Linked DNA regions of Homo sapiens. Each later gene encodes a partner of the first gene's protein in a complex. Each region holds a gene or a part of one and is shown in the gene's direction. Other genes may lie near its edges. The genes, in order: EIF3D, EIF3J and EIF3F.

What was found.
Region 2: EIF3D (region 1) and EIF3J share a complex: the UniProt entries of both Homo sapiens proteins name them as parts of the eukaryotic translation initiation factor 3 (eIF-3) complex.
Region 3: EIF3D (region 1) and EIF3F share a complex: the UniProt entries of both Homo sapiens proteins name them as parts of the eukaryotic translation initiation factor 3 (eIF-3) complex.

What each region holds. Positions count from the first base shown.
Region 1 is NC_000022.11:36,522,505-36,526,255, reverse strand, and holds part of EIF3D (eukaryotic translation initiation factor 3 subunit D), read left to right. Parts: intron 1-124; 5' UTR 125-134; coding exon 135-257; intron 258-546; coding exon 547-592; intron 593-1,523; coding exon 1,524-1,660; intron 1,661-2,275; coding exon 2,276-2,361; intron 2,362-2,974; coding exon 2,975-3,047; intron 3,048-3,751. UniProt on the Homo sapiens protein: mRNA cap-binding component of the eukaryotic translation initiation factor 3 (eIF-3) complex, a complex required for several steps in the initiation of protein synthesis of a specialized repertoire of mRNAs.
Region 2 is NC_000015.10:44,547,147-44,550,897, forward strand, and holds part of EIF3J (eukaryotic translation initiation factor 3 subunit J), read left to right. Parts: intron 1-3,729; coding exon 3,730-3,751. UniProt on the Homo sapiens protein: Component of the eukaryotic translation initiation factor 3 (eIF-3) complex, which is required for several steps in the initiation of protein synthesis.
Region 3 is NC_000011.10:7,985,444-7,989,194, forward strand, and holds the start of EIF3F (eukaryotic translation initiation factor 3 subunit F), read left to right. Parts: upstream 1-1,893; 5' UTR 1,894-1,909; coding exon 1,910-2,273; intron 2,274-3,751. UniProt on the Homo sapiens protein: Component of the eukaryotic translation initiation factor 3 (eIF-3) complex, which is required for several steps in the initiation of protein synthesis.

The sequences.
Region 1 (3,751 bases):
GGTTCCATTTTGCGTGTTGCTTTTTGAGTTCTATCATTTATGTCTTTGCTTACTTCATATGGAGGGTGTTTTGTACTCTGAGGCCTTCGTTCATGCCGCTACTCACATGATTTATATTTTTCAGATTTTGGAAGATGGCAAAGTTCATGACACCCGTGATCCAGGACAACCCCTCAGGCTGGGGTCCCTGTGCGGTTCCCGAGCAGTTTCGGGATATGCCCTACCAGCCGTTCAGCAAAGGAGATCGGCTAGGAAAGGTACATGCCTGTCAGCAGGAGTCTGAATCTTTGCAGCTGTGGCTGCTACTCTCGAGTCCCTGTTTAGATTTTATTGTCTCAAAATCTTAACTCCTGAATTTCTTATAGGGATGCCAGCTGAGAAAGGTTATCTCTGGGTGTAGTCATAGAAGAGCTGGGCACTTACAGAGGTGTTGTGAACAAATTCTGAGACTCTTCCACGCTGTCCTCTCGCGCTCAGGGATTTCTGGTTCTGCAGAAACTTGCCTGGTTGACCTGTGCATTCTCTGTCTTTTCTTGTTCTTCGTAGGTTGCAGACTGGACAGGAGCCACATACCAAGATAAGAGGTACACAAGTAAGTGTTTCTGCAACTGAATGCCCCAATCAGGGCCTTGGGAAAGTTGTTCTTTATTCTAATGACCTTCTTCTGAAAGCTTTTTAGAATGGGAAGAAACTGCCAACAATAATTCATAACTTTTAGGGATGTATTCTGGGCTTTAACAATAACCACATTTTTGGAAATAGCCCTCAAAACTTAGACCATTCATTAAAGAGGTCTAGCCTATTAAAATGGGGTTTTGGGCCCTTTTAAAAACCTGTTGAAAACATTAGCTGGGCGTGGTGGCGTGCACCTGTAATCCCAGCTACTCGGGTGGCTGAGGCAGGACAATCACTTGAACCCAGAAGTTAGAGGTTGCAGTGAGCAGAGATCATGCTATTGTACTCCAGCCTGGTGACAGAGCCAGATCCTGTCTCCAAAAAAAAAAAAAAAAAAAAAAGTAAAACCCCTGGTTTTAAGATCCTGGTACCATAAAAAGGCTTTTTCTCTCTGCCACTTCAGATAGTTGGAGGTGGCTGCCTGGAGAACTAAGTTAGGATAGCTGAGGCTGAGATTGGCAAGAAAGTATATCGTGATCTATTAGACATACCTGCCATGGGCCCCTGATAATGGAGATGGTGGTTAGCAATAAATACCTCAGATTCTCACACAATAACGCAGAGAGTGAAATGGGTTAGTTTGAGTCCTTCAGATTCTTGGCTTAGAAAGTTCTTTAGGCCAGAGTTGTTCAAAATTGAATGTGCATATGAATCATCCGGGGATCTTGTTAAAATGCTGGTTCTGATTCAGTGGGTATGGGGTGGGACTGTGAGTCTGTGTGTCTAACAAGCTTTCAGCCAATGCTACAGGTCTCAAGACCACACTTGAAATAGCAAGGCTTTAGACTGGTGCATATCTGGTAAAGTCTGTGGGTGCAGTTACTACATGCCATCACCTTTGCCTCCAGATAAGTACTCCTCTCAGTTTGGTGGTGGAAGTCAATATGCTTATTTCCATGAGGAGGATGAAAGTAGCTTCCAGCTGGTGGATACAGCGCGCACACAGAAGACGGCCTACCAGCGGAATCGAATGAGATTTGCCCAGGTAGGCCAAGAGCCAGCAACCACACCATCTTGGGGCTGTTACTGTTGGCCATCACCTGCTAAAAAATGCTACCTTGTGACTCCTAATGAGAGAGGGAAGCATATTATAGGTCTTTTCGTGAATCTCGGGTCACCGTTCCATAACAAGTGGTACCAAGGTGAACTTGCACTAGGATCAGGGATGCATTTAAATAGTTTATATTTCTGTTTGCCAGTAGCTAGGACATCAGACTTGTATGCTAAAAACATTTGTGCTGGATAAGAAGGTGCACCTGTGCCTGTTACCACACTTAATTGCTGTGTGCAGACTTTATTAAGTAGATGGTCCAGTCAGATTGCCTATTATTATTTAAAGAGGCAAACTCAGAAAATCTAATGAGACCCAGTAAACATACTTCAATGAAAAATATATCATGGGAGTATAGGTCTAAGCAAAGTCCAAGCACTTACCCCCTAACACCCCCAAGCTGTTGATGCCGTAGAGTGAAAGCACAGAGTAAGATGTGAAACTTGGGATTTGGCATCCTAAATTTACTCCAAAGACCTCCCACTTGTTCTGCCTATTGTGAGCCAAATCTCCAAGATTTTAACATGGATGTTTCTTGCTGATGCCCAGAGGAACCTCCGCAGAGACAAAGATCGTCGGAACATGTTGCAGTTCAACCTGCAGATCCTGCCTAAGAGTGCCAAACAGAAAGAGAGGTGAGATTTTCATCCTGCTGGAACAAGACACCCTTCCCAGACTGGCCGTATTTGGAAACCACAGGACCAAAGCAGGAGGATGGTTGTATTCCCCACCACTGCAAAAAAGGAAAATACTTTCTACAACCAGTTAAGCCCCCTTTTAGCTTGTCGTTCTCAGGCTGGTTCATGGCAGATAGCATGGGCAGGAAACTAACTCCTTGTGCTGGTCATGCGCACTAAAGGGAAACACAGGCAGGCAAGAAGAGGCTCTGGAGCTTACCTGGGCTCAGTTCTGCTGTGGGTCAACTCTAGGAAGCCCCCTGTATGCTGGTCCTTTGAGCCTCCTGGTGTTGTGTGGTCCAGCGGCCACTACACCCCAGATTGGAACTATCAGTGAACAGTCACTATAGATGAAGTAAAATCATCTGGTCAGTATTTGGAGGCAGTGTACCTTTTCTAACACCTCCAGTATGCACCGTCTGGGTCTCTTCCTTTCTCTAAGCCCATTTTTCGTAGTTTAAAGGAGTTAGTGGTGATGGTAAGGTTTAGCTGAAGAGAATGGCAGCGTGTGCCTTTTGAAGAAGCCACTGGTTTAAAGGTCTGCACTGAGATCATATGTCTGTCTTTCCAGAGAACGCATTCGACTGCAGAAAAAGTTCCAGAAACAATTTGGGGTTAGGCAGAAATGGGATCAGAAATCACAGGTAATGTATTTATACCAGAATTCTGCCTTGGAATTTGGTTCTGTTTATTTGGTTGTCTTTATTAATAGCTTAGATGAGATATACTTCACATACCGTACAATTTAGTGGTTTTTAATATATTTGAAGAGTTCTGTAACTGGTCAATTTCAGACCATTTTCATCACCCTCAAAAGAATCCCTTACCCTTTAGCAGTCACCCTGTCTTGATCTGTTTTCCGTTGCTAGAACAGAATACCTGAGAGTGGGTAAGTTATAAAGCGGTTTCTTTAGCTCATGGTTCTGGGGACTGGGAAGTCCCAGATCAGGAGCCACATCTGGTGAGGGCCTCATGCTGCTTGATAGCATGGCAGAAAAAGCAGAAGCGGGAGCAGGGTGCAACAGAGAAAAGGGCTAAACTTTGGGTAGTTAGCCCATTCCTGAGAGAAGGGCATGAGGCATTTATTCCTTTTAACGACCTAATCTCTTAAAGGCCCTACCTCCCGACACTGCCGCAGTAGCAACCAGATTGCCAAATGAATTCCAGGAGGCACACCCAAACACCAGCACCCCCAGTAGCCCAGCAGTAGGCAGCTATGAATCTGTTTTCTGTCTCGGGATTTTTTGTTCTAGACATTTTACATAAATGGAATCATACAATATGTGGTCTTTAGTAACTGGCAGCTTTTATTTAGCGTGTTTTCAAGAGTCATCCATGTGGTAGCATG
Region 2 (3,751 bases), on another chromosome or scaffold:
TGACTTTTTTTTGTGAGACGGAGTTTCATTCTTGTTGCCCAGGCTGGAGTGCAATGGCGCGATCTCGGCTCACCACAGCCTCTGTCTCCTGGGTTCAAGCAATTTTCCTGCCTCAGCCTCCCGAGTAGCTGGGATTACAGGCATGTGCCACCACACCCAGCTAATTTTGTATTTTTAGTAGAGACGGGGTTTCTCCATGTTGGTCAGGCTGGTCTTGCATTCCCGACCTCAGGTGATCTGCCTGCCTTGGCCTCCCAAAGTGTTGGGATTACAGGCGTAAGCCGGCCTTGATTCTTTTTTTTTTTTTTTTTTTTTTTTGAGACGAAGTCTCGCCGCACTGTCACCTGGGCTGGAGTGCAGTGGCACAATCTTGGCTCACTGCAACCTCCCACTCCTGGGTTCAAGTGATTCTCCTGCCTCAGCCCCCAAGTAGTTGGGATTATAGGTGTCTGCCACCACGCCCAGCTAATTTTTTGTATTTTTAGTAGAGACAGGGTTTCACTATGTTGGCCAGGCTGGTCTCAAACTCCTGACCTCGTGATCCGCCCACCTCAGCCTCCCAAAGTGCTGGGATTACAGGCATGAGCCACGCACCCGGCCTGACTCCTTTTTAATAGTGGGCTTTAGAATTATATAGACTTAATTCATTAACCAGGCTTATGTTGTATGGAATACTACTTGAAATAAATGAGCTATTGGCCAGAGTATAGGATGCTTTTTACATTTGGGGGGAAGTAAGAACTATAAAGTTCTCTCAGTTTTTATTTATTAATAACTGAATCACTTTCAGAGAGGCTATTGATTTCAGCTAGGTTGTCCTAACTGCTAATGGAGAAGCTTTCTTATGAAGTTAGATAAGTTGATATGAGGGTTCATATGGAAAAACAAAACATGCAAGAAAGGCCAAGAAAACACTAAAAAATCTGAAAACCTACAAGGAAGGACTAGCTCTAGCTGACATTAAAGTAAAGCCTCTGTAATTAAAACAGTACCGGCTGGGCATGGTGGCTCACGCCTGCAATCCCAGCACTTTGGGAGGCTGAGGATCACCTGATGTCAGGAGTTCGAGACCAGCCTGGTCAACATGGAGAAACCCCGTCTCTACTAAAAATACAAAAATTAGCCCGGCATGATGGTGGACACCTGTAATCCCAGCTACTCCAGAGGCTGAGGCTGGAGAGTCACTTGAACCCAGGAGGCAGAGGTTGCAGTAAGCTGAGATCGCGCCATTGCACTCCAACCTGGGCGACAAGAGTGAAACTCCGTCTCAAAAAACAAGACCAAAAAAACCCAGTATGGTACCGTTATATGGAGAGACAGTAGACTAGTGGGATAGGATCAAAAGCCCAGAAATAGACCAAGTACATATGAAAATTTAGTATATGGTAAGTCACAAGGTATCTTAAAATGTTTTTTGCTGCAATAGAATGCAATAGACTGGGTATTGTATAAACAACAGATTTATTTCTTATGGTTATGGAGGCTGAGAAGTCCAGTATCAAGGTGCTGGCATCTGGCGAGGGCCTTCTTGCTCTATTATCCTGGGGCAGAAGGGCAAAAGAGCACAAAGGATTGCAGGAGGTGTCAGAACTCATCCTTTTATCAGATATCTACTCCTAATATAAAGGTATTAATAATTCATTCATGAGGGCTTTGCCTCTAATCATTTCTAAAAGACCCTACTTCTCAACACTGTTGGATTGGAGATTTCATCACATGAACTTTGGAGGACACATTCAAACCATAGCCCAGGGAAAAAAACCATTATTTATTAAAGGGTTTTTAATAAATGATGCTGTGACAACTGGGTAGCCATTTGGGAAAAAAATGAAATTAGATCCATGTTGCATATCATAACACAAGAAAAAAACTCCAAATCAGAGATCTAAATAAAAAAAAAAATGAAACCCTATACATTCTAGAAGAAATTGTGGGTGAATTCTTAGGTGTAAGAAAAGACTTTCTGGCTGGGCGAAGTGGCTCATGCCTGTACTCCCAGCACTTCGGGAGGCTGAGGTGGGCGGATCACCTGAGGTTGGGAGTTCGAGATCAGCCTGACCAACATGGACAAACCCCATCTCTACTAAAAATACAAAGTTAGCCAGGCATGGTGGTGCATGTCTAATCCCAGCTGCTTGGGAGGCTGAGGCAGGAGAATTGCTTGAACCCGGGAGGTGGAGGTTGTAGTGAGCCTAGATCATGCCATTGCACTCCAGCTTGGGCAACCAGAGCAAAACTCCAACTCAAAAACAAAACAAAACAAAACAAAACAACAAAAAAACAAGAAAAGACTTTCTAATTGACTTGAAATCCATCCAGAGGCAATGAAAGAAAAGACTGGGGCTAGGCACGGTGGCTCACGCCTGTAATTCCAGCACTTCGGGAAGCCGAGGCGGGCGGATCATGAGATCAGGAGTTCGAGACCAGTGTGACCAACATGGTGAAATCCTGTCTATACTAAAAATACAAAATTAGCCAGGCATGGTGGCATGTGCTGGTAATCCCAGCTACTCGGGAGGCTGAGGCAGGAGAATCACTTGAACCTGGGAGGCAGAGGTTGCAGTGAGCTGAGATCGTCCCTGTATTCCAGCCTGGGCGACAGAACGAGACTCCGTCTCAAAAAAAAAAAAAAAAAAAAAAAAAACCATTTCTACTAAAAATAAATGAGCCAGGCATGGTGGTGTATGCCTGTAATCCTAGTTACTGGGGAGGCTGAGGCAGGAGAATCGCTTGAACCTAGGAGGTGGAGGTTGCAGTGAGCTGAGATCGTGACATTGCACTCCAGCCTGGGCAAGAAACTCCGTCTCAAAAAAAAAAAAAAAGTCTGGTAAATTTTATTGCATAAATTTGTTGGGATGCATAGCAATTCATGGGGAAACAATAGAGGCATTTCCATCAAGAAAGCAAGGATGCCCATTACTTCTGCTGCTGTTCAACATTGCACTAGAGGTTTAGCTGGCCCAATTAGGTAAATCACTTGTGAGGGCCTAAGGATTGGTAGAGAAGTAAAGCTATCTTTTGTTTGCAGATAAGGTAGCATACCTGTAAAACCCTAGAGAAGCAACGATAAATCTAACTTAAGTGATAAATGAATTCAGTAAGGTAGCAGGATATTAACATATAAAAAAGCCAATAGTCATTTTTGTTTATTTGTTTTGAGACAGGGTTTTTATGATAGTGAGTTGCCTAGGATAGAGTGCAGTGGCACTATCATAGCTCACTGCAGCCTTAACCTCCTGGGCTCAAGTGATCTTCCCACCTTAGCCTCTCAAGTAGCTGAGACTACAGGCACATGCCACGTTGCCCAGTTAATTTTTTAATTTTTTTTTTTTTTGCAGAGACTGGGTCTTGCCGATAGGTTTTTATACACAAATAATAGCCACCTAGAGGACATAATAGGAAAACACCCTATTTATAATAGCAACATACAAGATGAAATACTTAGGAATAAATCTAAAGAGAAATGCGCAGAGCCTCTAATAGGGAAATCACTTTAAAACACTTCTGAAAGGTACAAAAATGTACTTGATCAAATGGAAAGACAGTTCTTATTCTTGGTTAGGGCAGCTCAGCATTATAAGATGTCAATTCCCCCTACATTAATTTATAAATTTAATGCAGTACAAAAAAATACCAACAAACATTTCTCTGGAGTTAGTCAAGTTGATAATAAAGTTCACATAGAAAAGCAAACATGCAAGAATTATTAATGGAAGTCCTTTTCTTTAGGATAACTGGGATGACGATGATG
Region 3 (3,751 bases), on another chromosome or scaffold:
GCAACACTTCTTCAACTGGGTTCTGTCCTCTGGCCTTTTTCCCATGAGATGATCTCAATGGACTGACCTTGACTCAGGCAGACCCCTACTAAGCACCCAAAAGGGAGGCCAGGGCCCTGGGCAGTCTCTCCAGCATGCCTCTCAGCCTGTGCAAGACCATCTAGGCTTCTCAGTGTGGGTCCACCTTTTGCCCGTTTCATTAGATATTTTTTCACACTTGTATATTTAATATTTCTCTCTCGTCTATATTCTTATCCTCAGTTTAAAATATACTTGAAACACTGCCATCCTAAATTGGCTGCCTCTCAATCCTGCTGTTTCCCTGGCTATTTCCTTAAATGTCTCCTTTCCTTCCCAGAAAACTTCCTGAAAGAAAAGCTGGCACTTGCTGCTTTCAGTTCAGACTGGCCATTCTCTCACACCAGATTTCTAGTTTCTGTGCCCACCCCACCCTCAGTCCCACTGACGTTGCTCTACTAGGGTTGCTAAAGACTCCAGGTCATCAAATCCAAGAGTTACTTTTCAATCTTCTTCTGTTTGGCTGTTCACCTTTGTTTTGGTGAAAGAAAGAATGCATGTCTACACAGAGCATTTACAGGGGAGCAGCGTCATGTGAATTCTAATAATGGAAGATTTCTCCAAGGAGAAATCAACTCTTGGGCACAGAATCAGGGATAAGAAGTTCAACCTCACCTATCCACTTGCCAGCTGGACACTAGGACTTGACCTAATTAAGGGAGTTGACAGTTTTTTTGGTGTTTTGTTTTGTCTTTACAAGCAGATGTTATCACCCCATTATACCAAGAAGGAAATTGAGGCTCAGAAAAAACTTGTAGATTGCCCCAAGTTACACAGTGGGTTATGGTCAGAGCTCCCTCCATCACATAGTGATAATAGCTATGACTTAATAACTACTGTATATCAGGCATGTGCTAAGAGCTTTACAAGGCAATACCTCATATAATCCTCTCCTAAAGTACAGACTAGTTTATACACCTTATTACAACTCCACTTGAATGTGTAATGGACATCTCAAAGGTGACACATTCAGAAATGAAATCAGGATCTTTTCCCCAAAACCTGCTCTACCTACAGCTTTTGCTATCTCAATTGATGGTGACTTCATCCTACTAATCGCTCAGTACAAAAAAAAAAAAAAAAAATTGCAGTCCTCCTTGACTCCTCTCTTTCACACCTCATATACAATTTCTCAGGAAACCCTATTGAAACTACCTTCAAAATATATCCATAATCTTCCCACTTCTCAGAACTTCTACTGCTACCAGCCTGGTCCCAGCCACCATCATCTCTCACTTAGATTACCTAGTGGCCTCCCAGCAGGTCTCCCTGCTTTTCCCTCTCTCGCCTCCCTCTCCTCACCTCCCCTCACCCTCCAGTCTCTTCTCAAAGCAGCAGGAGAAATCCAGCTAAGTTCTCCTTCTCGCCCATTGCAGCCTCGAGCTTCTGGGCTCAAACGATCCTTCCGCCTCGGTCTCCCGAAGTGCTGAGATTACAGGCGTGAGCCACCGCGCCTGGCCTTAAAATCCTTTTTAAAGGCACTTTGACATCCATTATCTCATTTAAGTCTAAAACACGAATTTCGACCTCCGCGCTGCTTTCTGGTTCCACCTGGCGGCAGCTGCACAAAGTGTTTCTCTTCGAACGCCGTCCCAAGTTTTACCCGGAACTACTTAGCCCAGGGTTTCCTGAGTGCTCCTCGGGCCAAAAGCAGAGCGCACAAATTCCAGAAGAAATTACCAACGGCGGGACTATTTCAGTGCTCCGAGAAGTATCACCAGTAACCAATCAGCAAAAAGCTCTAGCTCACGTGGTGTATATTCAGCCTATCAAGCTCCTGATATTCATGAATGCTGTCATTTCCGCTTCCGCCTCCTTCTTTCTCGACAAGATGGCCACACCGGCGGTACCAGTAAGTGCTCCTCCGGCCACGCCAACCCCAGTCCCGGCGGCGGCCCCAGCCTCAGTTCCAGCGCCAACGCCAGCACCGGCTGCGGCTCCGGTTCCCGCTGCGGCTCCAGCCTCATCCTCAGACCCTGCGGCAGCAGCGGCTGCAACTGCGGCTCCTGGCCAGACCCCGGCCTCAGCGCAAGCTCCAGCGCAGACCCCAGCGCCCGCTCTGCCTGGTCCTGCTCTTCCAGGGCCCTTCCCCGGCGGCCGCGTGGTCAGGCTGCACCCAGTCATTTTGGCCTCCATTGTGGACAGCTACGAGAGACGCAACGAGGGTGCTGCCCGAGTTATCGGGACCCTGTTGGGTGAGTGGTCAGAGAAAGTTAACATTCTTTTCTTCCTCCCACTTCTCATTTATCTCACTCCCCTAACTCATTAATTCTTTAATTCCTGGTGTCCTACCGTCCTTTCCTCCCATCCCCAATGACCTCTTAATCTATATCTGCATCCTACCTTTTGCTGTGACTTATCTTCTCAAGCACTTGCATCTCTCCTCTCTCTCCTGCCGGATTGCTGTCACTTTAAGCGACATAAAATACACAAGGAGTAGTTGTGTCATTTACTGAATATTTTATGCCAGTGGTTTACATTTATGCCAGTGGTTTACATTTTACATAAACAGCAGTTTATGGCAAGTATGATGGGCTGCATCTACCAAAAATGAGTTCACACGCCGAGTGGGAAGTCAGGAACCCTTGACTCCCTATACCAGTGACCACATATTTCTCCCTTATCCACTGACTAAATGTCATCGTTTTCCAGGTATTGACAAAGTTTTCTAACCAGTTGTCAAAGGAGTGGGGACGTTTGTAAAAAAACATTCCTCCCAACAAGTAAACCGGTTTGGTTGGAACCCGCTTGGGATTTTATAGTGTTCTGCTGTCCTAAACGTCTGAGCCTGATCTGTGTCCCTCAGTGTCCCCTAATATTAGTACCTAATGTGAGAAACCCTGTTCCCCCATTTTGCATTTGGACGCAAACAGTTGTATTATCTGTTTATATTTCTGCCCTTAACCTTCAGGTCGAAAAATGACCCATTCTCTGCCTGTGTTCCAAATTTGGGGAATAGATATTTTATGTTAAAGTAGTTTGTAAAATGGAAAAGCACTAAAGAGGGATTGTTGATAATAAATTCCTTTCTGGAGACTATGCTGGTCCCATGAAATTCGTTTCCATTCCATCTTAGTGCCAGATTTTAAATAGCTTTGTGAATCCACTTTATTTACAAGCATTCTTTCTCTTTCATACTCTTGAACATCTACTAGTTCTTACACCATAGAAGACAGTTGGTATATTGCAAAGCAGACAAGATTTGTAAGCAGACCTCACAAAACATTTGCCATGTGACTTGGGGCAGATTACCTAAAATCTGTTCTGTCAGGAGCTACTTTAGACTTAGTCTTTGTGAGAGCTAAATTAAAAACTTCTGACTATGCTGGCACACATTAGGTACAGCTGTTAGTTGCCATTCACATCAGGCCTGGACCACCCCAATGCATACAGACACACATTTTCTCTCCTTTATCTATCTTTGACGGTATAGCATTTTACAGAAACTTAAATTCATATCTTCTGAACATTGCTTGTCTTTTCTCAGACCAAGCTTTTGCGTTCTCTTTGCCACAAGTGCTTTTCCTGCTGTCCTTCATTTGTTTAAGCTCTACCTACCTTCCACGTTCCCAGCAACAGCATTAAGTGCCGGTCCTCCATCCCATACCCGGACCCTCACTCCATTCTTAACCTTCCACAGCATGATGGTGTTCTGTAACTGTGCCCTGCTCTG